Linked DNA regions of Homo sapiens: all the other regions are linked to region 1. The links come from fine-mapping of genetic effects on gene expression. A gene starts in region 1. Each other region holds a variant in brackets. All regions are shown on one strand. Distances are from middle to middle. Region 1 holds the start of LINC01228 (long intergenic non-protein coding RNA 1228). Region 2 has its middle 37 kb from the start of LINC01228. Region 3 overlaps LINC01229 (long intergenic non-protein coding RNA 1229).

What was found.
Region 2: its variant is fine-mapped to the expression of LINC01228 in whole blood (INTERVAL, PIP 0.96).
Region 3: its variant is fine-mapped to the expression of LINC01228 in tibial nerve (GTEx, PIP above 0.99).

Annotation. Positions count from the first base shown.
Region 1 is chr16:79,822,860-79,833,751 of GRCh38, forward strand. It overlaps LINC01228 (long intergenic non-protein coding RNA 1228), which reads right to left and starts at 4,291. Exons shown (of 2, transcript NR_170199.1): 1 at 4,129-4,291.
Region 2 is chr16:79,858,427-79,869,318 of GRCh38, forward strand. No RefSeq gene overlaps it. Among named protein-coding and RNA genes, the nearest start is that of LINC01228, 37 kb to the left of the region's middle. The variant T/C (reference allele first, on the strand shown) is at 5,502.
Region 3 is chr16:79,794,566-79,805,457 of GRCh38, forward strand. It overlaps LINC01229 (long intergenic non-protein coding RNA 1229), which reads left to right. Exons shown (of 4, transcript NR_104660.1): 2 at 2,926-3,165; 3 at 3,874-4,125; 4 at 6,608-6,778. LINC01228 (long intergenic non-protein coding RNA 1228) reads right to left here. Exons shown (of 2, transcript NR_170199.1): 2 at 3,270-3,944. Among named protein-coding and RNA genes, the nearest start is that of LINC01228, 27 kb to the right of the region's middle. The variant C/G (reference allele first, on the strand shown) is at 3,969.

The DNA of each region.
Region 1 (10,892 bases):
AAGTCATTGCACAGCCTTCTGGCTGGCTTCACTGCCTCTATCCTCTTGTAACAATTCAATCCAAAAAAGAATTCTTAACAAACCATAGTGCCACTCAGAATGGGTCACGGGCTCCCTGTTGCAAAGAGGATGGAAGCTAGAACCCATCTGTAAGTATTGAGATGCTCCTTGACCAAGTCAGCCTTTTCTAACCTGCTTGACTTTCCTCCCCAACACTCACGGTCCACTCCAGCCAGACATACACATTTACGAAGTACAGTCTGGGTTTGTTCATAATTGCCTTTGCTGAGTTGCCAGAAAGCTTTCCTTTTTCTGTGAGTTTCAGAAACTTTGGCATGGGTCAAGACATAATAGCAGACAGAAGAAAGATCATAGGCTTTAGTATTGCACAGAAATGGATTCAAATTATGTCTTGCTACTTACTTAGTAACTATGTAGCCTTTGGCAAGACCTTTAATCTCATCCTGCTTCCATTTCCCCATTATTAAAAGAAGGAAGGCTCTGTTTGATCCTACACAAAGGGGGATAATAACAGTACCAGCCTTCACTGGGTGATTGTAAGAATTTAAGTAAATAGTGGATAAAGAATGCCTGGCAAGCCCTGAGCACAGTGTCTGGCACATAGTAAACAACACCTGCTGCCTTACTGTCATTGACTCTTTTATGTGACGTGTGTGACCTGGTATCTAGTCACCCTGGGGTTGCATACTCTCATTCTAAAAGGAGCTAGCTGCTTTCTTCTCCCTCTCCTCTCCCTCCTCCTGACACCCTGGTGATGGCTGAGGCTGATGTTCACATCTGTCCTGTGGACCACTAAGGTCTGTTTCTCCCCCAAACTTTTTGGAGAGTTTCTTCCCTGAAGGAGGGAATCTGTTATGCACATTGCTCTATTCCATGTATGTCTTTCTTGGTGACAGATTGATTCCACAGGCATGAATCATTGATGACTTCAAGTGACCCAGAATATTCTTCGTGTGTAACATACAGCTGTGAAGGACGCTTTTGTCAAGGGGAATCTGGCACAGATGGAAAACACAAACCTCAACATTGTCTGGGACTGTGGACAGGGGCCCTGATAGTTTTCAAGAATCTTTCATAATATGGGCTTTTCTCAGATGCCAGAGTGGTGGATGTTCACTTCATTTTTCCAAGGTGGAGATCTATTGTGGACTTCTTTGAAAAACTAATATGAAATCTGAGATTTCATATTTCATGTATTAGCCATCCCTGTGACTAATCAATCACATTTGACTGACCAGGGGGACATGTGCTATAAACATCTAGTACGTTTATATTAATTCATGCCATTTACTACCAATTTTGCATTTTAGAAATAATATTATGGGATTCATAGGCCCCAACCCCTGAAATATTAATTTCAATAAGAGTTTTTTCTTAAGTACATACTCTGCCAGACCCCAGAAATGCCCTGGTGTTACAGCAGTGAATACTATCAACTTGGTCCTTCGAGTTCACACTGCAGTTGAGGAGGCAGACGTTAAACCAATAATCACACCAATTCCCACATAATTAGAATTGTGGTAACTGCTATGTTGAACATGAGAAGCAGGTGTAAGCACAAATAACAGAGAGGCTTAATCCAGTTTGGAGACTTAGGGAGAAGGTGGTTACAGGTCAAGAAAAACTCACTTAAAGGAGCTACACTGAAGCTCAGCCCAAACGGATGAGTAGGAGTCAGGCGGGCAAAAGTGGAAGAAGGATATGGCTAAGAGATGGTAGTCAGGGAGACCTCGCAGATGAAGAGGAGCAGAGATAACGGTGTATGAGAAATGAGGCTGGAGAAGTAAGCAGAGCTGACCTGTGACAGCGAAGTAGGCCACACGGAGGACTTCAGAACTTACCAGAAAGAGAAAGTCGTTACCACAAAGAAAAGATTTGATCACATAGTCAATTCACTATCACTGTTGATTTCCTGGCCACATTCAGCTGGCAGACATTACAACTAAACTACAGAAAATGTAGCTGACGTCAGATGCCCACTTTTCCAGTCCTAAGTGATTAATTCATGCATCCACATACCCATCTACCCATCCATTCATCGATCTACCCATACATGCATGCACCCATCCATTCATTCACCTACTATCCATCCATCTACCATCCATGCATTCATCTAGTCATCTATCTATCCATCCATTCATCCATCCACCCACCCATCTATCCTTCCACTCATCCATCCACTCACTCATTTATCCATCCATCCACCCATCCATCCATCCATGCATGCATTCATCCATCTACTCATCTATTGACCCATCCATTCATCCATACATCTACCCATCTATCTATCCATTCATTCATCCTCTCATCCATCCATCAATGCATCCATTCATCCATCCATTTACCCATCTGTGCATCCATTCATCCATCTGCTCATCCATCCGTCTATCCTCCCATTCATCCAACCATCCATCAATCCATCCATTCATCCATCCATCTACCCATCTGTCCATCCATTCATCCATCTGCTCATCCATTCATCTATCCACCCACCCATTCATCCATCAATCCATTCATCCATCCATCTATCCACTCATCTATCCAGTTATCCATCTATCCATTCATCCCCTCCCTTGTCATTAATTTACCCACTAACCCACCCACCCATCCATCCAAACTTCAATCCATGCGCTTATGTATTTATACCTTCACCAAGTATTTATTCAATTCTCTAGGAACAGAATTGTGCTGGATGCTAAGGTAACATGGTGAACAGGACACCACCCCCTCGTTCAAATGTTTTATAGTACAATAACAGAGACAATTAAACGGGAAAAGATAATACAGTGAACTCTTAGCTGGGATGAGGGTAAGAATTAAGTATCAAGGGAACACAAAGAAATGAGGCAAATATTGGAGAAAGCTTTCTAGAACTGAAGTCTAAGCTGAGATATGAACAGTGAAAAGGGTATGAGGCCAAAATCTGACAGGAAATGCAAAGGCCAAGGGTGACGGAGATGGAGATGTTTTGAAGGAGGTGGCTGGTTTCAGGGTGGCTGGGTAGGAGGTCGGGATGGGGTGGAATCATGAGATTGGACTGGAGAGGTAAGCAGGGGTCAGTGTATATCTATTAAAACTTTTGTTTTATTTTGTTCGGATGCTGTTGCTTTGTTATTATTTTTGTTTGCATTTCTTTATTTTATTTATTTATTTTTGCAGAGGAGGTATATGAGCAAATAGAAATATAATTTGATAAATTCTGTACTTGGGCAGAAGCTATTTGATAAATATACAAAAAAGTATTTTCAGGAGCCATGTAGATGATGGAATAAGAGAAATAAAAGTGATTGAGTGTCTACTGTATGCGAGATACTTAACCTGAATTGGCTCCTCTTAATTTCACACCTTCTCTGAGATTGAAATGTATTCCTAAGAATTCAGGTGGAAAGTCAGGGCCTGGCCAGCTGAGGCTGTTGGAAAAGGCCACACAGCTTGCAAAGTGCAGATCCTGGGTGAGGACCCAGATCTGTCTGATGGTGCCGCCTTTCCGTGACTGCATGCTACCACTCCGCTTCTCTCCAAACTGGTCATTTCCAATTGGGTGGACTCGTGATTTCCAGGACTGACTTGAGGACACCCAAAATTATACAATTATTCCAGGGGAGAAGTAAAGATGCCAAATTCCTCTCAAAGCAACTCAGTCTTAAGTAGTTTGAATTGGTAAAAAGGTCTTACATATAAAGTATCTAGAATATATGATGTTTACAGTTCATCAAGCACTATGCTAAATGCTTCTGCTTCCTTATTAGGGAGGTGACATCATGGTCCCATTTTACAGAGGGAGACAACCGAGACTTACATGAAGTAATATAGCCATGGGAGCTCACTAAGTGGTGGAGTCAGGATTTGAGCCCAGGTAGTCTAAGGAAGAGGCCCTCCTCTTAACCACATGACCTCACAACATATACCTACAATGTTGCACCCTACAAGCCTCTGTTCCAACCAAAAGGAACTCTTGGGAGAGAAGTGGAGGCTGTAAAATTGAGCAATACCCGTAGGACCTCAGAAGAGATTAGGAACCAGTGAAGTCCTCAGTGCATACCCCACGTATCCTGGAAAACAGCTGGAGACAAGAACCTCAGAACCACAGCAGAGCCAGGGGCTTACCTTCCCTTAGCTGCAGCTCCCTTGCTTGCCTTTCCTGAGGATGGAGCTTTCTTTCTGCTAAAACAATTTTCCTTTAATCTTTTCTGCAGAAGAAAACCCAGAACAAGCTTTATGGGGTTCACTTTAGTTTTGCTGTGAATTTTCTGTGAGCCTGAGGAGCTCCGGTGTTTTGCCAACTGACAGATCTGCCTGTCCTCTTTTCCTTCTCCCCTTTCTTTTTTTTCTCTTTTCTCCCCCTGCGTACAATTTATGTAGAACATCTGGTTTTAAAAGTGTCGCAATTTTAAAACATATTATAATGCTCATGGGATCAGAGTATCAACAGCTGTCTATTGCGGTAAACCGCATGTCTGGAAACTGAGTTCTTGAATAAACATAAAGCATCTATAACACATGATGCTGAGCAACATGCATTTGTAAACTGAGTATTTAGACCAGATGAGGTGCAAAGGATGGCATTCTTGGTCAGGCTGTCAAAGTGGTAAGGGCATCTTCATTTTCTTAGCCCTGAATTTATCCGAAGATCCCGGAGCCTGTGAGCTAAGTCAGGCACCTGGGGGCCCTCTTTAAAATCTTTTTGACTTCTTGCCCCCCTGTTTCTGCCAGGGTCTGCTGCTTTTGACCTTACTTTCCTACCATTTAGTTATCACTAGCCTACAGTTTGTGGAAGTTCTTTTCCACCCCTGTAATCGAGATTTCCAGGAGAGTAAATGATACTTGACTTTAGTTAGAGCCACTCCTTTCTCTCTGGCTCCTGAAGTCTTCAAGAAAGAATTCTGTATCTACACATATCCATGCGTATTTGTAAGTGGATTTCCAATATTTATTGAGTGTTTATCTGTACCGGACACTGTTCTCAACCCTTTTCCTGCATTTAATGACATTATTCTTCAAATAGCTCATGGTATAAGTACTATTATTATTCTCAGCTTACAAATGGGCAAACTGGAGTCCAGAGGACACACAGTGTTTTTAGACCACATAGTTTGTACCATGGTAGTGGACTAATATACATTATAATTTAGGCTAGGAAACATTTCCCGAAGGAATGATTAGGGTTCTACTTGGGTCATTAAGAGAAGCATGGCACTACGTTTTTGATAAACCCAATCAAAAGATACGCTTCTATAAGGACAACTTACTTACAGGCTCAATGGTGCAGGTTTTTGGAAGAGCTCACAACAAAGTTATGTACTTTTTTCATTGAGTTATTTCGATGGTGCTAAAAGCTCCACATCCATGTCATTTGGGAGTAGGGTTGGTCCATGAATAGCTGAGAAGAAACACAGTATAAGTTATCTAGATATAAATATGGATACTTAACTTCTCTCGCTGCCCTCTTTAATGGCCTATCAATAAAATGGGGCAAAAGACAGAGGGTAAAATATTATTTCTTTTTTGTCTTTAAAATGAATTTCATAGATATCTACTGCAGTTAATCTAAAAAAATGTGTGTGGGTGGGGCTATGATTCAAAATGCTTTATGTTCTGCACTTGGTTAAGCTTTATTTAGAGTATATATTTTGTATTCCATCTCTTCATAGTGCAAATGGCTCCTGAAGAAGGAAAAGAGATGTGAACAGTTATTAAATACACCTTCTTAGTCCTATTTATCATTAATTCCAAAGGTCATGGGTAGAGCCCCCCACTGCAACTGGATCAGTGTCTGTAACAGTTTCTGGGCTACCCTTCAGCATTTGATTTCCTTAACCTAAAGTTTTGTGTTATGGCCTCAATAAATACATAGATCTGATTTGTACAATGTTTTCCCCTATGGGGTACAAGGGAACTTGCGAATAAATGGCTCAGAATACTCAAACTGGACTTACACAGCTTTACTTATGGAAACATAGCATCTATTTTGAGCTTATATTTTCACCTTGATGTTAATTCTGCAGCGGAAAGGCTCTCACCTACCTCTCCAGTGTAAAGTCAAAATCTACATTTAAATGGAGACATCGCACGCAGTACAGTCCAGGAAAGCTAGTAAACATAAACCCTGCTGCGATTTAACTGGAAATAAGATCTGATAAGTTAAAAGAAAGAAAGAAAAAAAACAACAAGGGAAAGAAATGGCACATAAAGGAGTCGATGAATTTGTGTTGGAAAAGGTGGAAAATCAAACTAAACAAAAACGAAAACATTGACTTGGAAAGATTCCAATGAGACAACATTTTCTACCATATTTAACTGTAATAAGGCCGTGTTCAAGGTACAAATACGATGGGCTTATCTTTGTAAAAAAACAACAACAGAAAGAGAACAAGGGCAGATATTAGGGTGCTTTTTATACTGATATTTCCAAACCTCATAAAATATTAGTAGCTGCATCAGCTATAAAAATTAATGGCTCCAGAGTCTTTTGTGTAACCCTCTTCAATTTCATTTTATCACCATTCTTTTCTATTTTTTTTTCTCTCTCAGGTTTTGTCTTTCTATCTTCTCAAGTTGTTTGGGGTTCCAGTGTTTATGAGCTTTATAAGCTTGATAAGGCTTGTAGAGTAGGATTTCTAACAAAAAGCATTGATCAAAAGCTCGCCTGATTCCTTTACATTGAAGTTTCTATGGTACAGTTAGATTGTGATAACATTGTCAAAAAGAAAAGAAAAAAAAATTCCGGTCTTCATTACTGAGTTTGTTGCCAACTCATTTTTTCTTTCTTTTGTTCTTTTTTTCTCTTTTTTAATAGCAGGAACTAAAACTTCCAATTTCCTCAGGCCTAACCTGACCTTTTAAAATGTTTTCAGGCCACTGTGAACACGAAACTCAATTCTGAATTTGCATTTACATAATATAATTTTTACCATCAATTAATTGATCACATTTAAATTTAAAAGTATCCAGTGAGTAATAACTACCCCCTGGGGGATGTAAAAGTTAATTTCCAAACACAAAGGCCACTTTGACTTTCAAAAAGCTGAGTTGAGTTTTCCATTTAAGTCAAAACCAATAACAAAAAAAGGGAAAAAAATAGTTTGTGTTTCTTTGTTTTGTTTTGTCTTGTTTGACCATCCCCAATGGCTCCAGAGAATCATATGGGTTTATAAATGAAGGAAAACTTAAAGTTGTGAGGCTGGGAAGGCAAGGTACCTCTCTGAGTGCACTACAGAGAGCTAGCTCTGGAAGCTTCTACTTTTCCTTAATGAGTTCTTCACGAGTGGTAATGTAAAAGGCCATTCCTGTCTTGGGTATAGAATAGCCTGTTAACCTACATTCATAAAACAACTGGCCAGGAGACCTAGAAGACCCAGCATCTGGATATTAAAATTACGCCGTCGAATCATACAGTGAGTCTAATACTGAATGTACAATAGGTGTTCAGTAAATAATTAGGGTGGCACGATGAACCAGAAAAGACACAGTTCTTGGAATAAGAAGACTTGCTTCAAGGGCTCTCTTCTACCATGAATTAGCTGGGTGGCCTTAGGCAAGTCACTTAACTTCTCCCTAGATGAGAATGCCTATCTTCAGAGATTGTTGCCACAAGGCAATTCTGTTATAGATATAGAAGTGTTTTGTGAAGACGGGAGCAAATGGAGTAACAAAGACTGGGATAAATGCAGGTGCATTAGAGAAATACTTCCTGGTCTTTGCTTGTTGGCTTTGTTTCTGACATGAGTATATCAAGTAGACAAATGTCACCACTTGTACTCAACATCGTGAAGTCAGCCTTATAGGCATTCAGTCGACTATTTTCATTTTCAAGGTAGGTAAATAATAAATACTAGTTCAGTTACTAATTTGCAGGTAGTGTAAACTGGTATTTTCCTTGACCAAAGTAACCAAGCTATTAAACAATGAATTAATTTGGGATCTGTGATAGGTGTTGGCCTGGGATTTGAACATACCCTGCACTATCATTATACGGGTATATATCTGTCTTTCTAACAAAACCATGAACTTCGCAAGGGCAGAGACCATGTCTTATTCATCACTGAATAGTCTCCTCCTCTTCTTCCACACAAGCACCTAGCATCGGGTCTGGCTATAGTTGGTGCTCAATAAATATTTGGTGAATGAATGGACAAACGGTGAGAGAAACATAAAACCAATGAGGTGGAATTTAATTCCACAGCCTGCAAATCAAAATCAGGCTGCAAATGGAGGTCATTTTCACAGGGATATATCTCAGGGTCACGTGTAGTTAATCAGAACACAGCAATTTTTTTTTCATAAACACAAGACAGATTATATATTTTTTCACATGTCCCCTAAATAGCATCCTCTTCTACTAATTTCAAAACCAAATGGGATGCTTGAAACACCAAATCAAATGCTGATGTGGGTTGGCGTGTGGATAATTCACAAAGGCTGAATCTTCACACCCATGACTAAATAAGGCATGGCCAAAAAATTTAGTGGAAATGATGGGGTCTACTTGTGGCTATAAAATTGCCCCAAATTTTCCAGTAAATTGCTCTAGCCAGGGTGCCTTGAACCGGACAGCCCCAAACACAATTGTTCTCCTCTTCAACTCAACTTGAGACTATCATTTAGGTAGCAGAATATGGAGCAAAATGTGCATTAAAAGTTATTTTGCTTTTTCAGAACCCAATCAATTTAATCCAAGCAGAGTCTAGCGTAGAACTCTGTGTAACTGTAACTTCCCTATAAGTCTTTGGTCCTCGGTCAAATGCATTATCTTCATGCAGCTAGTAGTTTACTGAGTTGACACAGCCTGTGAGATTGCCCCTTTTGGAAGGCTACGAGAAGTTCAGTCCAGTGTCTAAGCAAGAACCGGACCCAGGCTGCGTGAGTGGAAATCTGAGCTCTACCACCTACTTACTAGCTGTGCGACCTTGAGCAAGAGAGTTAGCATCCCTGTGCATCAGTATTGCACCTATAAAATGGCAATAATATTAATAGCACCTGTCTCAAAGGAGCGCTTTCAGGATTATACGAGCTGATGTAGAAGAGGTGCCTATAATATTCCCTAGCACATAATAAATGCTATATAAAGGTTTGCTCTTATGTATTAAGGCTACACTGACTGCTATATTATAAGAATATAAGTTACTTTTAAATCTGAAATTGAGACCTAAATACTGTTGTATATCTTCTGCAAAGCTGCTTCACAAAATAACAAATACTGCCATTCCCCAGGAGGGTATGGTGGTGTTTCTGAAGGCATATAAAACCACAGGATGAAACTAATTAACTAATTAACTAACTAGCTAACCAACTAACAACTCTTTGTGCATCTCCTTGGAGTTAAAATTTTGTTTGACGTCTTGAAGGAAAATAAAGGAAAAAAAGACTCGGTTTTATATTAAAACAAAAGTTGATATATTTTGGAATGTGGTGCAAGTTCTATGACTTTTCAAGTTAACAGGAGCCTTTAAAGAAAGTTCACATTTGCGTTTCTGCTTCAGGCTCATCTATCCCCTGTCCCCCATACAGCGGCCCAAAAGATGTGGGAGTGGGACCAGAGGTCCCAGAACAGAGCTGTGTTGTGCCCTTAGCTCACTGCAGGAAACTGGTGAAGATTCCTTGGGTTAATCCTTCCCAAACTATATAAAAAATAGTTTTTTAAAAAAAAATTTCATATGCATTTTAGACTAATAATAATTTTATAAAACACAACCAAAATAATTAGAAGAAATGAAACATACAAGACATGCAAAATACAAGCCCCATTTAAAAACTATTAGATTAGGTAGATATAAAATTACTGTGCCAAATTACGAATAAATTTCCTAAATATGCACTATCCATCTCTGTATTTATCTGGGTGTGAACTGGTAAGGGACTCTGATAGCCACACCACACCTGAGTAGCTATTCCATGTGACTTGTGGGTGGAATCCTGAGAAATGGGACCCTGGGTGGCTACATAAATCAGGTGTCTCACTAATATTCACCCTTATGCAAAACATAGACCCATGTTGGTGCCTAGTGATGAGCTTCCTTGACTTCCGGTTGGTGGATTATTGGACCTGAGAGATGTAGCTTGCTAACATACCCCTGTTGAAGGTGAGAAGTCATCTACAAATGAACACAGAAGTGAGGTGGTTAATTTCCTGATGTGGGGAGATCACTCCAGTACGGTAGATTTCAACCTCTTTTGGACATCCCAAATTTGAGAGTCCCTTGGCAGCCGAAGCCCTTTCCACTAGCAAAGTCCAGAGACCTAGGCACACACACACAAGCATATTAGCAAGGAATTGAGCAACCATCTGAAACCCATTCCAGTGTCCCCATGCACAGTTCCCCAGCTTGAGGATTGCTGTGGACAGTGAACTAAACTGGGCATTACAAACAGCCTCACCAGGAGGTACTTCCACCATCTCTTGATACTTTTATCTCCATGATTAATCAGTCCTGATTTTTCTTGTCTCTAACATTCTTCCGGGGCAGCCTGATGCTTACTCCTGCCTCCACAGCTCCAGAGTGAAAGGGTTTCTGTCTTCAGGGACTGCCATAGCACCATATGATTAGCTTAGTCTGTCTTCTCATAGATTCTGAAACCAAACTGGGCCTGCCCAGTACAACCTCTTCATGGTGGCACAGCCCTGAAAGACAAGCAGACGGGTGGGTCCCAGCCCCCCTGTTATGAGGTAGCGTCTCCTGGAGCTGACACCCCCACGCAAATTCAAGAGAAACGTAATGATGGGCTACAGGTGGAGCTCAGGTGAGAGATAATGTTACTGAGAATAGGGCTAAAAGCTACAATTTCCAAATGCTTGGAGGTAATTTGAATACCAAGAACCATCTCAGAAACAAAGTGGTTTTTAAACCTTATCCACATGGTCAGGATGTTGTGAC
Region 2 (10,892 bases), 36 kb after region 1:
ATATATGTGTAAATATATATATATATATACACATATATACACACACATACATATATATAGAGAGAGAGAGACAGAGAGACTTAGATACCCTTTGTATATAAAATCTGTTATATACAGATATATATAATCTGATAAAATAGGATATAGCTATATTCTGACTGAATCAGAATATATATGTTATATATACTCAGAGTATAAATATATGTTATATATATGCAATCAGAATATATATGACAAAATTATATATATTCAATATATATATTCAAAAATTAAAAAATAAATATATATATATCCAGTTCTTAATGTTACAAGTCCCCTTGAAATCTTCAGTTTTGTATTGGAAGTTTTGGAAATTTTTCCTATTAGAAAATGTTCAAACTTGTTTTCTTTCCTAATGATTTGTCTATTTAATCTACTTTTTAAAATGTATTATTATTAAAATGGTTCTTTTACTCTCTCACAATTTCCAAATTTGTAATATATCTTCAGTTATATTCCCTTTACTGTTTCAAATATTATTTACTTCTATTTTGTCTCTCTCTGTTTTTCTTTCTCTCTCTAATCAGCCATGCCAGATCTATGTCTATTTTCCCTCTAGCACAATAGTGGCTACATGGTAAATGCCTAAAAGATATTTTCTGATGAACTGTCATTCTGAAAGGAAGAACACAGGGCTTGGCGTGTAAGATTACCTGCCTGCAATCTGGTGGCAGAAATGTAGCAGAACTTTGAAGCTCTGCCTGTAATTATCACCCTATACTAAGTCCCAAATGGATTAAGCAAGGCACCCTGTGATCCCCCAGTCAAGTAGGAGATATTATATATGTACATAGGACACACAGTGAAGCAAGTCCTCCCATGGCCAATCAAAGGAGAAAAAAAGGTGACTCCTGGCTGGATGAAGTCTTCTTGGTGCAGATGACTTTTAACTGAGAGTTGGAGGTAAGGAATCCTATTATTTGGCCCATTGCAGCTGTTGGTGCTATGTGCTGTGCAGAAGTCCTCTAGGGCTCAGGGACACTGTAGCCCAGAAAACACACACACACACACACACACACACACACACACACACACACACACACACAGTAACCGCGCTGGTAACACCAAAATCAACCACGCATGCAATCCTGATTCCAAAAATATGCAATATTCAGACAAGAGTTTAGGTAGTAATTCTAGTGGCACTTTAAGGAGGCTTTATGAGATGAGTTTGGAAGCAAAAAGCACAGTTGCTCTTTAGCAAGGAAAACATAAAGCAATATTGCTGCAGATTGAGCAACAAGAGGCTTAGTAATTCACAAACTTGTTCCACGTGAAATGTTGATCTGCAGGCTAAATGCTCTAATTTATATTGTGATATATTGTGTTTTCTAATGTGTTCTTCATGTGTGTGTGTGTATGTGTGTGTGTGTGTCGTATGGATATTTATTTATTTATTGCATGTTTCCATGATGTTGTACTTACTGTTCTTTCTGATAGAGCTACCTGTGCCCCTGCATTGCTTAGTGAATTACTAGTAATTGTCCGTAAGTTTTCTGAACCCTCAACTCTTCCAAGAATCTCTCTCTGACATCCCAGTCCGTAATGTGAGTGAGGGGTCTCTTCTTAGTGTTGCCCACAACTCTTGGAGCCTATCTCAGTGTACTGTATTTAGTGGCATGCTTGTGGGTGTGTTTTCTCCAGCAGGCAGGAACTCCTTAATGGGAAGAAGGGCTGCACCTGTCATTTCTCTCTCTCCTGTGCATCTGGAACATAGTGAGCCTTTGGCAACATGCTTTGAATGCCCTAAGCAAGGGACTGACCCCACTAGCTGATGGCAAGTGGCTGGTTCTGTTACTGCAGTTTCTAACCTGTGTAGGGTCCAGTTCCTTAGCCACACCTGAATTATTTGTAAGGCAATGGGAATTAATTTGTCATAGCTGTAGAGTGTCTCCCTTTGCAAAATACGGACTGCAGCAGATGCTGAGGACTATCTTAGTAGGGGTGACATCTTTTCTTTTTGAACTTGGTTTTAGGTTAAGGAGAGTTACAGGCAATTGGCCTTCTTCAGAGGCAGCTGCATGACAGAGGGTTTGGGAGAGTCCCAGCCAAAGAGGAAACTCAAGGCACCAGCCCTTTACATAAGCCCTGCTGGATGACAACACTGTCCTCCTTTCATCCCACCCAAGGGCTAGGTACATCTTGTCTCTTCAGTCTAGAATGCTCCCCGTCTCTCATTCCACAGTCATACATGCATGCACAGAACACACACTCATGAACACATGCAGACGCAGTCACAGAAACAGTCCATGCATGTGCGCGCGCACACACACACACACACACACACATACACATTTCACCTATGTGGGGCCCTCTCCTTTTTTAGATTTCTGTCACTTCTTATGGAAGACTTCCTCATCTTGGTTATATGCTCTCCTGGAACTGTGACCCTCTCTTTCAGATATTAATAAAAAATGTGTACCCAGCTTGTAATTATAGGACCAGTAATGTGCTTATCTAGCAAAGGTCTGTCTTTACCTATAAACTGTAAGCTCCCTGAAGGCAGACACCGTCTCTGTTTTTGTTTTTAATGTCCTATGCATAGTACAGTGTGTACTGGATGCTTAAAAGTTGTCAAATACATGTAAAATATTAATGAGTTGCCCTTCAGAACACTTATGTTGGAGTAGCAGACTCATTCCTTTATATACAATTAATAATGCATGAGCCACGATAGTAAAGGTATTCCTAATCTCCATTGCAGACAGCGGATGATGACTGGATGGGGATACTGCTTCAGAATTTTCTTCTAAACCAGGTACCAAGGCACATAAAGTCAGCCTCTTTAATTTATAGTCACATCTCACTTCAGACCTCAAGTGAGATTACCAAATTTTATCAGTCACTTTAGCCTCCATTGTTAGCCAAACATCTTCCAATTGTTTCCAAAATAGATCCTTCCTTCTTTGAGTGACAGTGATGCCTGCTTTGGTTGGAAGGTCCCAGCCAAATCTCCCATCGATAAGTGGGGGATTGCTGCCCTCCTCCCACCAGTCCAGTCTTCAGCACAGAGCCAGGGGCTGCAGAAGAGCGCAGGCTTGGGTCTAGAATGCATGGGCTTCAATCCCAGGTCCTCTGTGCAGGTCTTAGGGCTGAAGTGCAGGGTTTCGCTGCGCAAGGCTGTCATTGCTCCTCGGTCAAATGGGGGTAAGTTCCTCCCTTGGAGGTCTGTTGACAGGATAACATGGTGTAATGGATGTGTATGTTGATTAGCACATTCCTGTACTAAGCAGAAAGTTGCTCCGTGAATGTTAGCACTAGAGTTGTTAGTACACATGCTAAGTCATAAAAGAGTATCACTCTTCAGCAGAGGACTTTAAATTATATGACTGTGGTGGATTGTATTAAAGTTCAGCAAACATTCTCTCTCCCCTTGACCCACCATTCCAATTTGGGCTTGGTCGTGTTTCCCATTTGGCCAATGGGATGTGATCGGATGTGATCAAGAGCTAGTTCAAGCCAAGTCTGTAAGAGGCTCCGTGTGTTTCTGCTTGCCTTCCTTGATCCTGCCCACTGCGATGGGAAGGACACTCCCCTATGAGATGCTGCCTTTGCAACCTGGGACCTAAAATGAGAGGCACTTGGAGCTGGCGTGAAGTGAAGCCTGGCCGAGGCTGGCTGAGCCACAGTCAACGTGCAAACCTGGTGTGTTTGTAAATCACTCAGATTTGGAGGGTTGTTCATGATATCACTGCAGCAAAACCAGGGGCAGTAACCCACATAGAAACCAACACGCTGTCTCTCACCGGTGTACTTTGAAGGGCATGAGCCTCCTTTAGATGGGTAGGTTCTGGTGCTTTCTGCAAAATAACCAGTTGCCCGGCTTCACACATTTATTTCTAAGTCATTGTAGCACACTCTTCTCTTTGGCCAACAGCCATGTTGGATAAATCTTGTAACCTCTCTGAAACTCCATTGGTTTATAATCTAAGGGAATAAACACACGTTGAGCTCAAATTTGTGATTGTCTTGAGTGTTATTTAGATGGAAGTACAAGAAACCCATGTCAGAATATGAAGCTTGAGTCAAGTTGCTCATATCAGAGTAAAACATTCAGAATAAATTGAAAGTTCCATTCCGTAAAAGGCAATTACAAAAGCAGGGAGGGGAAGTCCAAAGAAACCCTTTCAGGGCCTAAAATTTTCTTAGTACTTTCATGTCCCTTTAAAAAGAAAAATGACATTAAAATAATTTTAAAGGTTTTGACTTAAGCCCATGGACATAAGGAAATTCCCCTGCTTAGAATCAAGTTCTCACTATCTGGCCCAGCTTGCATTAGGAATGGACTCCTGTGGAGATCCAATCTGGTGGTTTGGTTCCAGCTGAGAATGGCTATGCCGAAATTATTATGGCGCCAACCTTCCCATAATAAGCCGTACGTGGCTCTTAGCCTTGTAAGTGTCATAAGGACCTTTTGGATAGAAATCTGCCAATTTTTTCCACGCAGTCACTCTATTTGGGGTTTGTCTCTGCAGGTTTTCCTGGTACCGGTTCTGGCCTTTTAAGATTTTTGGCCTTTTTTATATAAACGTATAGATGTTCTAGCTCAGTTATAAGTCTCTGATTGACAGAAAGATTTGTAATTTTTTTTTCTGTTGTTCTTCAGTTCTTCATTTCTCATTATGTTCCAGTTTTTTTTTTTTCCTGGTTTTACTCAGATTTCACACCTAAGAGGTAGGCGTTGGAATCTTTTGGTGGGTCATTATCTGTTAAATTGACAAAGCTATTAATCAGTTAAGTAACAAGTTGTTGAGGGAGAAACTTGGTAATTCAGTTCCTGTGTTTCCATGTAATTGTTGGTGTTCCTCCTGTCACTGTTGCTGTTTTGCCTAGAGAGCTGCTGGACAGGAGACCAACAGATTCCTGGCTACCTGTCAGGCAGCCATCAAATAGTAATGATTTCCCGTCACTGCCAAGCATGTTCTAGATTTGAACCAATGACCTGAGAAGAAAGTCTCCACAGCCTATTACCAAATTAGCCCCTGAGTCTTTTGTTTTCCCAACAAACACCCTTTCCAATAAAATTTCATTTTTGCCGTTAGACTGGTCAACTTGCCTACAAATCCCTGAAGCGTGAAATTAATTGAACTACAGAGTTGGGCAAACAAGCTCAGAAGTGAGCTATTCAGAAATAGAAGCCAGTATTTCAGACATTGGTCCATTTGGAAAAAATGGCCTTGGTTTCCCTCTTGCATCTTGGGAGTGGGATTAGGGGTGGATGGGCGGGAGGTACACAGAAGTGGTTATGCAGTTTACTATTCCAAACTCTCATTTTCTTATGGCTTCAAGTTGATGAACACAGCATGCTAGGGGCTGAGACTCCTAGAGATTAAAAGCTGAATCACCCTGGAGAATCTTTCTTCCTATGACCAGGTTACCCGGGAGTTTCAGCTTGATTGCATTAGGAAAAGAGTTTCATAGCATTTCAAACCTTTTTTTTTTGAACTTTTATCTTTCAGCTA[T/C]GAACCCACTACGAGTAGCAGAAGCTTCCTGTGGTAGGAAACAGCTTATCTCTTAAATTCTATCCCAGCAACATCTGCATAGTTCAAACCTTATTGGAGAGCCAACGTATTTCTCTTAAATTTTGATAATCTTTGTTGTGAACCAGCACAGGAAAAAAGCTAGATATTATATAAAGCTAAATGGAGCACATTCGCTTAACTTGAAGGAAGGAAGGTGCCATAGAGAGTCAGGGGACTGTGTTTACATACAGAGTCCGTAATAGGGTATCTGAGCCTCTTTGACTGGCCCTAAATTTCCAGTGTCAATTTCCCGAGGCCTTATATACACACAGAAGGTACAAACGTGTTCATCTATGACTAAAAGTATCTGCATTTTATTACAGAATACAGTTCAGCCTTCTAGGAAGGTTAAACAAGCAGGTGAGAAGTGAGGTTTGGAAAACGGTCAAGACAGCTGCAAGTCAACAAAGATACCAACTTGAAGTGTCAAAAGTTAAAAAGAACCCTTTATGGATATTCAATTCATCTATTAAAGAAATGTATATGCACAACCTGCTATGTGGAGAGGATGTATCCTATGCTCAAAGGCCTAGGGTCATATTCTGGCTTTCTTTTCCAACTGTGTAATCCTAGGCCTGTTACTGAAGCTTTCCGAATCTCCCACCACCCCCATCTGTTAAATGTGAATGATAATGCCCTCGATAGGAGATGATTGTGTAGGTTAAATGAGATATGTAATGGACCTACTATGGTAACTATCACATGGCAGTCACTCAATAAATGGCTATTGCTGCATTACTAGTGTAGAGATCATTACTCTAGTAATGATATTATCATTCAAGTTAAGCAAATTGATAATAGTTCTTATCCCTCAAAAACTTAGCCATGACACAGCCTTCTGGGTTATAGGAAATTCTTCATCTAGCCAGTGAAGCTAAGGGCATTTAACTGCAAGCGTTCCTCATTCTCCACTCAAGAGTCTTATCTGACCACTTCAGGGAATGTCAGCCGTGCCAGTGTCTTAACACCCTGGGACCATCCATGATAGGTGGGAGTTGGTGGATAAATACCTTCCAGCTTCTTTGCTCCCTGGGTCAGTAACTCTGAAGTGTGTTCAACTCAGTGTCACAGAGATCCCATTATGACTAAGCCACAATTCCTCACATAAAAATCCTACACTTCCATGCATGCACCCTAGTATAGCTTCCATGCTTCCTTCCGCATTAAACTTGCCCATCTCCCTTCCAGTGCCTCTGAGAACACATCCCAAAGAAGCCATTTGCACTCGAATCCTTGTCTCTAGGTCTACTCCTGCGTGAATCTGACCGAAGACACTTGTGCTAAGTATAGATCTCATCCTGGAACTATCAGCCTAGAGTTACCATGTGAGAATCAACTGGATCTCAAATCAGCACGGGCAGTTCAGTATGTTACTTTGTGACTTCAGGGCTGTATTCACATTTGAAAGTGGTTTGTTTTCTCTGCTTAATGCATTGAATATATATGGCTTGCTTTTTCCTGGTCACAGAGGCTTCTCCTTGGTCTCAGTTTAGCTACTCTGGAAGATGTGTGATTATTTCTTGGAGCCCACACCCTTAGCACCCAAATATCTATTTGACGTGTACACCACATCCTATAGTTTAAGTAAAACCATCTCAGAATCTTACCTTCCAAACTCAGTGAAAACCTATCCAGCCAATTCACATAGTATAGTAGCAGATAATGTTACTAATAGAAATATAAAGCATCCATTTGAAGCTCTTTTCTTTATTCACGGAGCATGTAGGGGATACAAACAATTTTCCAAATGTTTTTCCCTTGCATAAACCCTATGAAGAAGAAACAAAATAATGACCCAGAAAAACTGAACAAAGGTAATCAGTTTCATAATTTAAGATATGTTAGTTTAATGGTGCACAAATTAGAACTATTTGACGCATCAAGACTGACAGTTTCTCTAATGTCATTGCTAAAGAAATGCATTTTCAATGACCTCACAGTTTTTGTATTAAAATAATTATTGCTCTTTGCATGTATAATTGTGATCTGGGCAATTAGAACGTAATCCCTCCCTTGGCCTCTTTCTTCTGGGCTAGGTAACACAACAAAGCAGTAGTCACAGTTAAAGAAATGCACAGCAACAGCAAATTGACATGGCACCTCGATTTTAGTCAACATTAGGGAATGAAAAATGCGTCTTGAATTAGTATCGTAAGACCTTGCTTTATGCAGTAACCGTCATGGTGTGACCTGAACTAAGTAATGTAACCTCTGCTACCTCTGCTCTCAACTTCAACAGGGAGGAAGACTGACTTCACAGAACCGTCATGAGTTTCAATGAGACAAAATAGGAATAGCAACTATGTCAACTATGTACACACTAGATACAAGTCAGTTAATGTTTTTATTATCTCAGCTGATATTTATAATTGCTCTTTGAGCTAAGAAAGGCAGATTTATGCTTACTCTTCACAGATGAGAAACTGAGAATTAGAAAGGTTAATTTATTTTGACTAGTAAATGTCAGAGATCAGACTTGAACCCTGGACCCTTCAGTTCGAGATGAATCTTCTCTCTTCTACAACAGTGCTCTTGGAGCTTTTCTGAGCGCTAGAATGCTGCACGAGCTTGTTAAAAAAAGCAGATTTCCACTGCTCCTTCCCCAACTCTCACTCCAAAGATTCTGACTCTGTGGTTCTGAGATTCGTTTTAGGAATCTGCATTTTCAATAAACACTTCAGAGAATTCTAATGCAGAAAATCCATGCGTAGAACACATTTTTAGAACACTTAGCTGTTATGACACATTGTCTATCAGGATTATGTTAAATGGTGGCAAGCCTTTAGAATTAAAGAAACTTTCTATTGACTGGTATCAGGAAACTTGATAATTTTTATTACTGATAATAATGATAGTACTATTACTTGAGTTCTTATTAGGTGCCAGCCCCTGTGTTAAGTGTTTGATGTGCATTATTTAAGTGGATCCTTATGACGTCCAGGTGGCCCCTGGAATTGTACAACCCCACAAGGTACTATTACCCTCCCTATTTGATATTGAAGCATCAGATCTCAAAGAGGTTAAATCAATTTCCAGTGACTTCCTAATAAACAGCAAACAAAGGAATTGAACCCCAATTTTCTAAACTTCATACCCATATAATTAGTCATTCTCTTCTGTAGGGAACAAATAAATGAGGGAGGGGAAATAATTCTGTGTGAATTGAGTGTCTCACGCTGACAAAGTCACACCGTAGTTGAACAAATTCAGAGAGCTATGGCTTAACCCTACATGCATTATTTAACCTGGTTTATTCCAATAGTGACCCTTTCATTGTCAGAGGTTCAGCTCTGTGGTATCAGATCCCAGGAATAGAATGGGGTATTAGTTTTCAATTGCTCATTAACAAACTACTCCAAATACGGCCGTTTAAAACAACAAACATGTATTATCTCACACAGTTTCTGAGGGTAAGGAATTCAGTTTAGCTGGATGTTGCTAGCTCAGGACCTCTCAAGAGATCCACTCAAGCTGTTGGCTGGAGCTGCGGTCATCTGAAGGCTTGAGGAGGGCTGGCGTATCTGTTTCCAAGATAGGGAGAAACCCTATACATGTAATCTATCTTGAAGATCTCTCTAACTTGAAGATCAGGAAGGAGATCTGAGAACTTTCATGGAAGCTTTAGCTCTTGAATTGACACGAGGTTGGAGACAGCAGAGCGCTTTTCTCAGGTATAGAGAGGACAATGCTCAGGGCTTACCATACTTCATAGAGGTAGAAATAAGAGATAGGAGCTGAACTGCCTTGGTAGTAGAATGCTTGTAGCTGATAGTTACCAAGGGAGGGATAGTCAGTCAATGTAGGACTGAATCTAGGTTCACCATTCACAAGGTTTATGAACTTGGAAGTATCTCTTAACATCTGGAAGATTCAATTTCCTCTTCTGTAACATGGGGACAGTCCTGGCACCTACTTACCTCAAAACTGTAGTTTGAGGATTTCTTTGAGCTACAGCATGTAAAGTTTTGAGGTTAATGCCTGGGGCATAGTAAGTGCTAAGCTAACATAATGGATAATATAGCCTTCGTGCCTCTATTTCCAACCCTTAAGGGGACATTAAGTCCTTGGTTAAAGACCAAGGACTTTATCTTTTTATTTAAGAATCTTGGATTGGTTCAAAGTTTAAAAACAAAGGAAAACACACAAACAGCAGTATTATTTTTAAAATATTGTTAAATAAGGACAATAGAGTCCCAGTTCCTCCTGGAGAACTTGGAAAACATAAAAAAAAACACAAAATACAAAATGGAGAAGGCAACCTCAAAATAGCGGGGCCTTCCTATCTCTGATACTGTTATGTGGATCTGACACTACGCTGTCAACATATGTTTCCTAGACGTCGTTTGAAATGGCTCAATGGAAACTAATGAGATGAATGAATCTCATGTTTTCCTCTGTCTTAAAAATACGCCTGCTCTCAGCAATGGGGTTTTCAAGACCAAGAGATGACTTTAAGTAATTTCGAACAATTTTGTCTTATGTAATCCAAAATACACATACTTGCAAATATGAGTTAAGCTCATTTTATATGTAAAAATTCCCATAGCTGAATCAAAACATGACCTCTTTCATTCTTCTTTCCAGTGTCTGGTACAACCAACTAAAAATTCTCCCTACCTTTGCAAACCAACCATGTTCTCATGGGAGGGCATCTTGAGTGAGCCAAGGAACCCTCTATCTAAGTCCTGAGAATTCACTAGTAACAGCAAGCTCTTGTTAGATGTCACTCTTTTTGAGGGAAAAGAAAGTGACCTTCAGGCATTGGGGATCCCAGTCTCGAGGAATTCCTACTGGTGGAAGAGACTCAGTGTGCCCAAATAGGAAGCTTTGGATTTGGCATAACCAGAGCTTTTCTGCATGAACTTTTATCACTTACTCCTTTTGTGGGAACAGTCTTAACAGTCTGCTCCGCCTGTTAGCAACTTATTTAGTTCCTAAGCCACAATGTGGCACTTAATGCGCTTGGCTCCCTTTTGCATTACTACAATTAGTTGTAGGTTTGACTGTCTCTTCCAGACTGTAAACACCTTGAGGGCAGAGCCTGGGTATATGAGGTTTCTCTATCTTACTCAGTCTGTAGAACTGGACTGGATTAGCCTTGGATAAGCAGCACAGACAGAGGCTGTCAAGAGAATAGGCTCCAACTCCTAGAGAGTGAAATCCCTTAAAAGAAAGCAAGAAAGTGAGGAAGTGGAGGAAGAAGAGAAAAAAGACAGGGAGGAATAAAAATCATTTGTTGCACTCTGTGGCTTTTTCTACAAGGAATCCTATGAATATGGCCATCTCATCATCTTGTTTATTTCTTTATTAAACTTAACACATCTATAACTG
Region 3 (10,892 bases), 28 kb before region 1:
ATTGCCCTTTCCCACTGTGTTAATATGGGAACACTCCTTCTCTTCTGTTTTATGCCTGTAGTGATTAACCCGGGCATTTTTAAGTAGGCTGTGCCAGGAAGCACCTTTGCAATTCCTGCTATTTCATAGCCTTTGCAAAAGTCCTAGGTTTTTGTTTTCTTCCCAAGATTGATTTCCTACCAGTTACGTCTACTATTTCCCATCCTCTCTGGCAAAATTGCAAGGAGTGGCATCAGCACATCTTTGTACAGTAGGCGAATATATTTGGAATGCTTATTTCTGAGAGCTGTTGAAGACGGCTAACAATTTTACCCCACGCAGAAGGACTGACAATAAATTTAGGAGTGGCAAATGGAACCACTGTTCTGTTTCCCTCTCAGTAAATAAATAACTGCAAAACCTGTACTCCAATACCAGAGCGTCAAATCCATGGCGCTCTGTTGATTAACACCGAAAATGTCTTTGTGAAGATGATGCATTTAGAAGAGTCCTAAGGCTCGCACCAGAAGCTGACACTGAAGGTTTATTTTAATGTAGCACAAATCAGAGCGAACGACGTGAAAAGAGTTCTGTTTCTCCTGGAAGGATGCCACTTGTTTCTACTCCAGGGGAAATGTCTTCCAAGCTCTTTACCAAATCTGCAAGCTGAACCAACTCAACTGTGGCTGCCTTGCCCACCTGAAGACCTCAGGATCCACCAGCAGCCCAAGACACCTCGGAAGCTGTTTCAAGGTCAGTACCAGAAATAGTGTTTTTGAGTGATTTGCAATGTAATGCAAAACTCAATGGAATGAGGAGTTTTTTTTGTGGCCTTGTATTTTCTTTCACACCACTGAATGCCAGTGTTTATGCTGGGGCATGCTTAGAGATGGAAATTTGGAAGGAAAGTCCATCACAGCATTTGTGCCAATTGGGGATCCAGCAATAATATCTGTTTAACAACACCAATAGTAAGCAGATGAATGTATATTGACCACGTTAGAAGTAAAACGAGAAAGATGTTAGAATGACATGGAGGAGAAGGAGAGAACAAGACAAGGAGGGAGAGAGGGAGCAAGAGGGGAAACATAAAAAAATGGATGGATTGAAAAACTGTGCTATCCTTTGTAACAACGTGTTTGCTCCTGCTGTTTCCTTGTCTTAGAATGCCATTCCACCCTTTCTTCACCTGGCGAATTCCAACTCAACCTGTGACCTCATCTTAATGTTATTTCCTCAGGGAAATCTTCCATAAGCCACAAGACTGGGTCAGGTCCCCATATTAGGTGGTCTGATGAATCTGTCTTTTTTTTTTTCTAGTACACGTCATGATGTAATGATTATAATTATGTATCTGGTCTATATGATTATCTGTTACATGCTAGTCTTCCTCAAGGAACAGAAGTTCTGAACTAGTAAGATTCCAAAAGCCCTGTGCTGGCCTTAGCTCTGAACACGGCCTTCAAGCCACCCATTGCATAAGGGAATGATGAATGAATGGATGTTTAAGAGAACTGCATTTTATTATCTGAGCCTTGCTGGTTTAGCATAGTCCTGTCCACACGCACATACCACAGGCCAACCTTGTGACATAAGAAAGGAGTTCAGGCCGGGCGCGGTGGCTCACGCCTGTAATCCCAGCACTTTGGGAGGCCGAGGCGGGTGGATCACAAGTTCAGGAGATCGAGACCATCCTGGCTAAAACGGTGAAACCCCGTCTCTACTAAAAATACAAAAAATTAGCCGGGCGTAGTGGCGGGCGCCTGTAGTCCCAGCTACTTGGGAGGCTGAGGCAGGAGAATGGGGTGAACCCGGGAGGCGGAGCTTGCAGTGAGCCGAGATCCCGCCACTGCACTCCAGCCTGGGCGACAGAGCGAGACTCCGTCTCAAAAAAAAAAAAAAAAAAAAAAAAAAAAAAGAAAGGAGTTCAATCCCCATAGCTTTTCAGTGCCATTTCTCAGGTCCCAACAGGTTCACTGATTTGCCAAGAAGAAGCACCAATGGGTCAGAGGCTGAGCGTGAACGGAATTCATTCTCCCGATGCCAGGGTCCCTCCCTCACCTCCCACTGCTCAGTAGACAGGTCTCTCTGCAGAAGGGAAAAGGGAGGGTTGAGGGTTTAGAGGGTTTAGACAGTGAAAAGGCAGGAAGAGTAATCATGACAGAAGAGATTTACTGCAGCCTTCTTCTCCTTTCTTTTTGCATTAAGGACAAGCGTCGCCTGCACACGTCAGCACAAATGGGAACATGATGAGGTACCACTTTTTCCAAGGCTGTGACCAGCTCCTCAGGGCAGCAGGCGAAGCTGTCCCTCTGAGTTAGCCTTTGAAGTTTTCCTCAAATCTCTTGCTGCAGGGAAGCCAAGCCAGTCAACCCTAGGCTTCCACTGGGAGCTATATTCCTTCCTTCCTTCATTCATTCCCCAAATATTTTTCAAGGGTCCACCATGTGCCAGGCATTGTGCTAAAAGTGTTTTGTGTAGGTTCAAGTGAGGCCTGCGGGGTGACCAGCTATCCCAGTTTCCCTGGCATGAGAGACTTTCTGTGTGCAAACTAAGACAGCTGGTCGCCCTACTTTGGGCGTGAGCTTAGCATGCAGTGTAACTTTCTGTACAGAGTGTAATTCTTAAGAATCACGCCAAGATCACCTTCCTTGCTAAAATGAACATTCTCAGGCTCCACTCCATACCAGTGATTCCAAATCCTCTGAGGCTGGAAACCTATGTTGAATCAGTTCCCCTAAGCTATTATTATGCGTATTTAAGTTTGAGAACAGCTGAACTAGTGCTTAAGGGTACGAACTTTAAAGCCACTCATGCATGAATTCAAATTCCACTCTCACCATTAAACATCTATGCACGTTTTTACAAATTGCTTAATCAATATGGGCTCTAATTTCCTTATTCGTAAAATGGGTCTCATAATACTATTTTCATTGTGTTCTTGAGTGATGCTGCCTGGAGTTAAAGGAGGCCAGGAGCACCAGAAGCTGGAGGAGGCCGGGGTGGATTCTCGCCTGGAGGCTTCAGTGGGAGCACGAGCTCCCGACACTTCGGTTCCATCTCTTGTTTAAAGGCACCCAGTTTCTCATCATTTGTTACAGCACCATGGAAAACCCACACACAAGTGAAGCCCCGACCCACCTCCCAAGTGCCCATCTGAGCACCCCTCGTGGACTCTGAGCAGGGGTGAGTACTCCTTTCACTCGGGCTTGCATGCCCAGGCCCCATGTAATATAAGCAATGAGCAGGCTACATATTCTTGAAAAACCCATAGGCTCACATGATAGCAATTCTTTTTATTTTTTATTTTTTTTGGAATGCAAAACAACAACAACAACAGAACACCAAAACCAACCTGAACTAGAAATGCAAGAGAAAAATGAAGCAACCCAAAGTTGTATAGCTGTTTCTTTCTTCCACCGAAGGTATGCCCAGCATCTCGTAGGTAGCTTGGTGACATATCATGGTGATGTTTTACAAGTTGGTTTTGGCAATAGTCACATCCTTTTTTTTTTTTTGAGATGGAGTCTTACTCTGTCACCCAGAATAGAGTACAGTGGCGTGATCTCTGCCCACCGCAGTTCCGCCTCCTGGATTCTCCTGCCTCAGCCTCCTGAGTAGCTGGGATTACAGGCGTGTGCCACCATGCCTGGCTAATTTTTGTATTCTCAGTGGAGACAGGGTTTCACTGTGTTGGTCAGGCTGCTCTCGAACTCCTGACCTCGTGATCCACCCGCCTCAGGCTCCCAAAGTGCTGGATTACAGGCATGAGGCATCGTGCCTGGCCCCCTTTTTTTTCTTATGTAGCTGTGAAGCCTCTGGGCTGCTTCTGGGTTCTTCCTTCTTGATCTAGCATGAATCCCAACCTCTTGGCCATGTTCCTTTCCTCTCCAGGGTTGCCATCACCAACTCCAAGTCTTGCAGCCCCTCTTCCCTTCAGTCTGGCTGCCACCTTCTTCATTGCCCTGGAAAAAAATAATGAAGTTTCA[C/G]CATTTAAAGGGTTTCAGTGCAGCTTGCTATGGGAACACTGGAGAGTAACACAAATGGCCAATTGTCCTAATAGCCACCATGGATTGGATGGATGCTAACAACAGGCTCACAGTTCTCCTTCTGTTGCCTCCTTTTATCCACATGAGAATCAAACAAGTAGGTGCTGCTGGTATTACTGTATTTTTCTCATTTTAAAGATCAGGATGGGGAGGGTTGAGGAGGTTAAGGAAGTTGTTAGAAGTTACACTGAAGTTAAGAAAGGAAAAAGGACTTAGAAACTTATTCTTCCAACTTTAGAACCACGGTCAGTGACCAAGGCCCTGCTTAGAACTTTCTGAAGGTTGCAGCTGGCCTTCTACCTGGAGTTTTGACTTCCTTTCCGAGAAAGGAACTTGAATGGCAATCACAAGAAAGTTGAGAACTTCTCTTTCATATTTTAAGCATTCATTTTTTTTTATATTTATTTTAATTTACAAATACTAATTGTATATATGTATAAGGTAAGATATGATAGTTTGATATGGCTACCTTGTAATAAAATGAGCCTCATTACCAAGTCTGGCACTTCACATGTGTATTTTTTTGTTTGGTAAAACATTGAAAATCTATCCTTTTAGCAATTTTGAAATGTACAATGCATTTTTAAAAATTATAGTCATCATTCTGTGCAATAGATCACTAAAGCTTATTCCTCTTGTCTAACTGAAACTTTGTACCCATTGATCAATATCTGCCTTTTCCCCACCCACACCCCTCCCCAGTCTCTGGTCACCAACATTCTACTCTCTTCTTCTTTGAACTCAACTTTCTTAGATTCCACATACAAGTGGGATTATGCAGTATTTGTCTTTCTTTACCTAGCTTATTTCACTTAGCATAATATCCTCCAAGTTCATCCATGTTATTGTAAATTACAGAATTTACTATTTCTAAAAGGCTGATAGTATTCCTTTGTTTATATAGACCACATTTCTTTTATCCATTTATTTGTTGATGGGCACTTAGGTTGATTCCATATCTTAGCTAATGTGAATAATGCTGCAATGAACGTTAATGTGCAGCTATCTCTTTGATATACTGATTTCAATTCCTTTGGGATATACCCGGAAGTGGGATTTCTTTTATTTTTGAGTGTGATTTAACTCCAGCCTCTTGGTTCTTTCTCTGAAAATCAGTGTGAACTAATTATTGCCAGATAGAATCTATTCAGCAGGACTTTTGTTTGGGAGGCACCTCTAAGGACTTGCAAATTAGGAGAAAATATTTTTCTGGACGTCTGCAACAACACAAGCCATTTTGTTGCCCAGCATTTCCTAGAAGTCATTCCAGGTAATAGGTGTTCCTTGGGCAAAAAAACGTTTTCATGAGCAAAGACTTGGAAATCCTGCCATGAAGGTTTTATAACTGCTGGACTTCAGAGCCTTTTGTTTGCTGATATAGTTTGAGGATCTCTAAAATGATGCTATGATAGGCATCCATTGTCTTTTCATGAAAGGTAGCTACATTTGGGCTTCCACAGAGCAACTTTGGGGACACATTGCTTTGGTTTCTTCCTTGCAATTAGCATTTTCTTCTCTGTGACTTAGGGAGATGTGTCCATATCTTTCCTGAGAGTTTATTATTTTCCAAGCCCGATCTATGTAAACATCAAATCACTTACAAGACATGGCAGGCCTTCCCGATGATGAAATTGTCATGACTTCATCATTCCTATAATCACCCAAATGAGTTCTGAAGTATGGGCCTTTAGCTGCTGAAAAATAGGAAACAGAGTCAAGTCTGGCCCTATCTTGAAATGTATGTGACAGCTCATGCTCAGTTTCAGTGACGAGAAATGTGTTGAGCTAAAAATATTCTAACCAGATGTGAATCTGGGACATGTGACTGCAACTCACCCCTGCCTGCCATTTTTTCAACTTCTAGTGTCTCTCAATGCACAGTTGCTACAATCTCAGGCCACCATAGCACCCTCTGTATGCATGCAACTTGTTTCTGTGAGTGCATGTCTGCAGCCCCTGGAGATGGCTTGGTGGAGAATATCCCTACACCAGCCAGCCACAGTGGCTCCTAGCAGCCCCAGAGTGGATGGGAATAAATAAATTCCATTGCAAGTTAGGCATAAGTTCCTCTCAATCAAATGCTTGTGCATTTGTTTTTTTCCTCCAGTCTTCCATATCATTAAGAAGAGCTTGATTCTATCCTCTGGTTGGAAGACACATTGCTCCCATGATTCTGTAGAAGAAGTGGGTTTCAACTTGGTCCAGGAGAACTTGATGCCCATGGGCAAAGGTGGAATCTACCCTCCATGCAAAATGGTGTGTGGGACTCTCGTGGGGGATAGAGTCTTGTCTGGAAGCTGAATTATTTTAAGAAGGCTCTTGGCTCACTTGCAGAAGATAAAAACTAATACCTATCTATCTTTTACAGAATGACAAACAATTACTACACTTCACTGAACACATCTTGTATACTAGGCATAAGAGCCAATTGTAACTACTTTTATTTATTGGGCTCTGTCATCAAAGCTTTTGGATACTGTCTTAGTGTCAAACTATTGTGGTACTTTAGTGCGTTGAGATGTGAGCTTGTGTTTCGGTGGAGCCAACGTAAGGTTTCATATCTCTTCTTTCCATCTTAGGATCTTCTAGGAATCTAAAAATGTGTGTGAGATTTCACCTGTAAAAGCTGAGTTATTCTGAATCTGCGTTTTCCTGAAGATTTTTCTTTGTGTGGTCAGCCTTCTTGGAAAAATCCAGAAGCCACCATCAACTTACAACCCTGCATGAATAAATGTAATGTTTCGTTTGGAGATTGAGAGCTGATATATAGGACAAGGATAACTGGCCCAATACAGACAAAGTTCCTTTGAGTAAAGCAATCTGATCATCCTTAAGGAGAGCCTCAGTATAGAGCCTAGTCAGAGCCAGCAGAAGTTTAGACTCTCAAAGAGTCAGCCAGGTCCTCTTGGGAAGCACCTACTTGAGAATCCTGCATGATAGAGTTTGACATCTGGCTCTGTTACCTACAAGCTTGACCTCATTCCTATAATCCTTCATTTCATCATCTTTAAAGTGGGGATGAATTGTGCCTAGACAGACAGAATAGATGACCATGCGAGGTCATCATGCCACACTGCACATAAGTGCTTAGCATATAGTGAGTACTACACAAAAGGCAGCTTCCATTGCTGTTGCTAAGGGTACGACCTGCTGGGAGAATCATCCATCTATCTTCTAAGTGCTAATTGAGTGCACGCCTTTCTTACCTCTGAGTGTTAAAGCTTTGTCAGGAAACGTGGCAACATCTCAGGCTGAATCAGCCCTATCCAGGACTTGTCATTCCCTGATCTGGGTCCCAACCTATGAGTCATACAGCCTTCTCCATGTGGACACCACAGCAAATCACTTTTCCCATAATGAACAACCAGACACACTCCATTGTGGTGACGGAAAGTAATTACCAACATAAATGATCTAACCAGACATGGGTTCCACCAAGGTTTAACCCCTGGTTTCCTTTTCTGCACAGTAATCACACACTGTCCTGTGGCAGCCACTGGGGGAGAATCATTATGGAGAATTATGTGATCCATCTGCCCACTGAACCACAGGTGGGGGTGCAGGCAGGAACATGGCACATCTGGCTTTATTTTGGGGTCTGGTGACACCAGGAACATGGATAAATGCCCTACCTTAATTATGGGCTGTTCCAGATCCAGGAGCAAATATCTTACAGGCCACATTCCCTTTTTTCCCAGCCAGAATGGAGGTTTCCATTTTGACATGATATGGCCGCAATATCATTAGAACTACCAGCACTCATATTCCCCTCACTGTGATCCTTGTAGCTCAAAACACAGCTGTCTAGGCTATGGTCTGCACAGGTCAATGTGACTCTAGTAATTCTGTTACTACCTTTGCAATTGCTCTTTATGCTAGCACAAATACTGGTATTAATTCTCTCGATACCATGGCTAGGTAAATTTTGTTCTGTGCCAAGCACTGAGCTAACCACTTTCACATATATTTTCTCATTTCATCCCTATGAGGTTATACTGATATTACTCCCACTTCCTAGATAAATGGACTGAGACTTGAATAGGGTAAGGTGACATGCCCAAGGTCCCATAGATAATATACAGCAAAGCCAAAATACCAACCCAAGTCACATGGCTACTGGGTCAAAGCTAGATGCAGCATATGACAACTGTCCTCTGCAGTAACAGGTCCATGTTACCAACATCAGAGTAGATGAACTGATTTTGTTAACGTAACACCTAGGAAATCTAACCAAGGCCATTTGTTGTTATTTAAATTGGACCAAGAAGAAGATTGCAGTTATGAAAGAAGGAATTAAGCAATTTTGGTATAGCAAAAGTATCCTGACGTTTGTTGCCATTATTTATTTATTTATTTATTTAATTTGTTTCTTGAGGCAGGGTCTCACTCTGTCACCCAGGCTGGAGTGCAGTGGTGTGATCTCGGTTCACTGCAACCTCTACCTCCCAAGTTCAAGGGATTCTCCTGCCCCAGCCTTCGGAGTAGCTGGGATCATAGGCACGCACCATCATATCCAGCTAATTTTCATATTTTTAGTAGAGATGGGGTTTTGTCATGTTGGCCAGGCTGATCCTGAACTCCTGACCTCAAGCAGTTCACCTGCGTCAGCCTCCCAAAGTGCTGGGGTTACAGGTGTGAGCCACTGGTCCAGGTGACATTATTTATTTAGTTTTTTAAATGAGGAGTAATATACCTATAGCCAGGTGTACGTAAAGTATGCTAATCTTAAGTATACAACTTAATGAGACAGGTTACCCATGTACACATCCCTGAGAGCAAGATAGAAAACATTTCCACTCTCTAGAGGGCTACCATGTGCCTCCCTCCACCACTGTACTCTTCCCTCTACCACTATTTAAATGTCCATCATCATTGATTTGTTTTGCCTGTCTTTGAATGTTTTATATATGTGTGTATATATATATACATATATACATATAACAAAGAGTGTATATATATATACTTATGTATGTACACATATATATACATATATAAGTATATATGTGTACATTTATACACACACACACATACACACACACACATACACACATACAGTTTTTGTCTGCTTTCTTTAACTGAACAAAATATGTGTGGGATTCTTCCAGACTAAGTTATACATGGACAGTACTGTTGTACCAGTAGTTTGTTCTTTTTAATTGCTATATGGTATTCCATTTTCTGGAAACACCGCATCTATTTATGTTTTGGCTAAGATAAGTAAGTCATTTATAAACATTCTTATATATGTATTTTTGGACATATGCAAATATATGGGTATATATTCCTATGAATAGAATTGCTGGGTTATAGTGCAGTTGTAAGGTTCATTTTAATAGAAACTACAAACAGATTTCTAAGGTAGTTTTACCATTTTATATTCTTAGCAGTAATGTATGACAGTTCTTCTCACATCCTTGCCAACACTTAGGGATGTCCTGACATTTGTGTTTGATAAGCCCCTTGTACATTCTCTGCTTTATAAAATAAAGCCTGAATTGTGTCTATGAAAATAATCACACACCCGATCATGCTTTATTTTTATCTTTTTGTGAGAAAGCGTTTACGAAAAACATATACTGGCATTTACAGGTCTGCCTCTGAGATGGGGAATGGAAAAAACAAAACAAACAAACAAACAAACAATCAAAACAGGCTTTGAAAAAAAGACCCTCAAGTCAGGATGGAACTCAGATGAATGGAATTGCTACAGAAAGCCTACAACCAAAGTTTTATTTCATGCATGCATAATTCTGCATTTATTGCAGCCCTCAAATCCTATTTTATAACAAGACAAGCTTAATGACTGATTCTTTGCCATATACTTAATAAGCTGATGCATATACCCCAAGTTACCCAAGTCATCAGATGGCAAATGTTTTATTTAGCCTAGAACATTAAATATTTATTGAGCCAGTCCATGGTTTACTCATTTATTCACTCCTTCATTCATTCACAACACAACCTTTATTAAGCATCCACCATGGGCCAGGCACTGTGTTCAGCCTGAGGATATGACACCAAGTAAAACCAGCATATACGTGCTGCCTAAAAAGACGTAATTAAATCAATACATGTAATATGGCTTGCTGTGTTCAACAATAGGGAAAGGCAATGTTTCATTATTCATTCATTCATTACGCACCTAACGATTGACACTCACACACATACATTGCTGGTGTTCTGTACACTGGGGATGAGAAAGATACCTAGACCCTTCAGCTGCTCCTAAAACGTGTAGTCCAGGAAGTGAAGGGAAAGTAGCCTGAATGCTATGGCCAGAGGTAGCTGAAGTATGGCGCAAGGAATGAGGAGGGTTCGGATAGCAGATACTAGAGTTACGCCCCATTCCAAGAGACCCTTTATCAAGAACAACCAGACAGCATGTCTTGGTCCTGGAATCCCTCCCTGCATTCTCAAAGGCTTGTCAAGCACAGGGACTTGGCCATGAGTTGATGGAAAGGCAAAACCATGCTAACCATGCTGTGTAACAGGGATTGGACTTGCCATGTACATTAGTTGCCCTGCTTTTTGCCCTTTCTCTCAATCACAGGCATTAAAATTAACATCCGTGTCAAAACACATGCTAATGCACTTGCATGTAGAGAACTCGAGAACTCAGGCTTTAAACCCTGGATGCTTTTTATTCCCATGTCTAGAATTTTTGTAATTTTGAATGTGTATGGGTTCTCAACTTAGTGTCACTGCCATAGCAAAGGATGGCCAGTCAAAATATTTAGGAAATCTATTTTTGCACTGATGAGAGTGCTGACGGTATGACCATAATGTGTATACTATCAGGTAAGAATTGTGTACATTCTGACAATCATCCATTCTTATTCCATTTTACAGATGAGTTAAATGAGG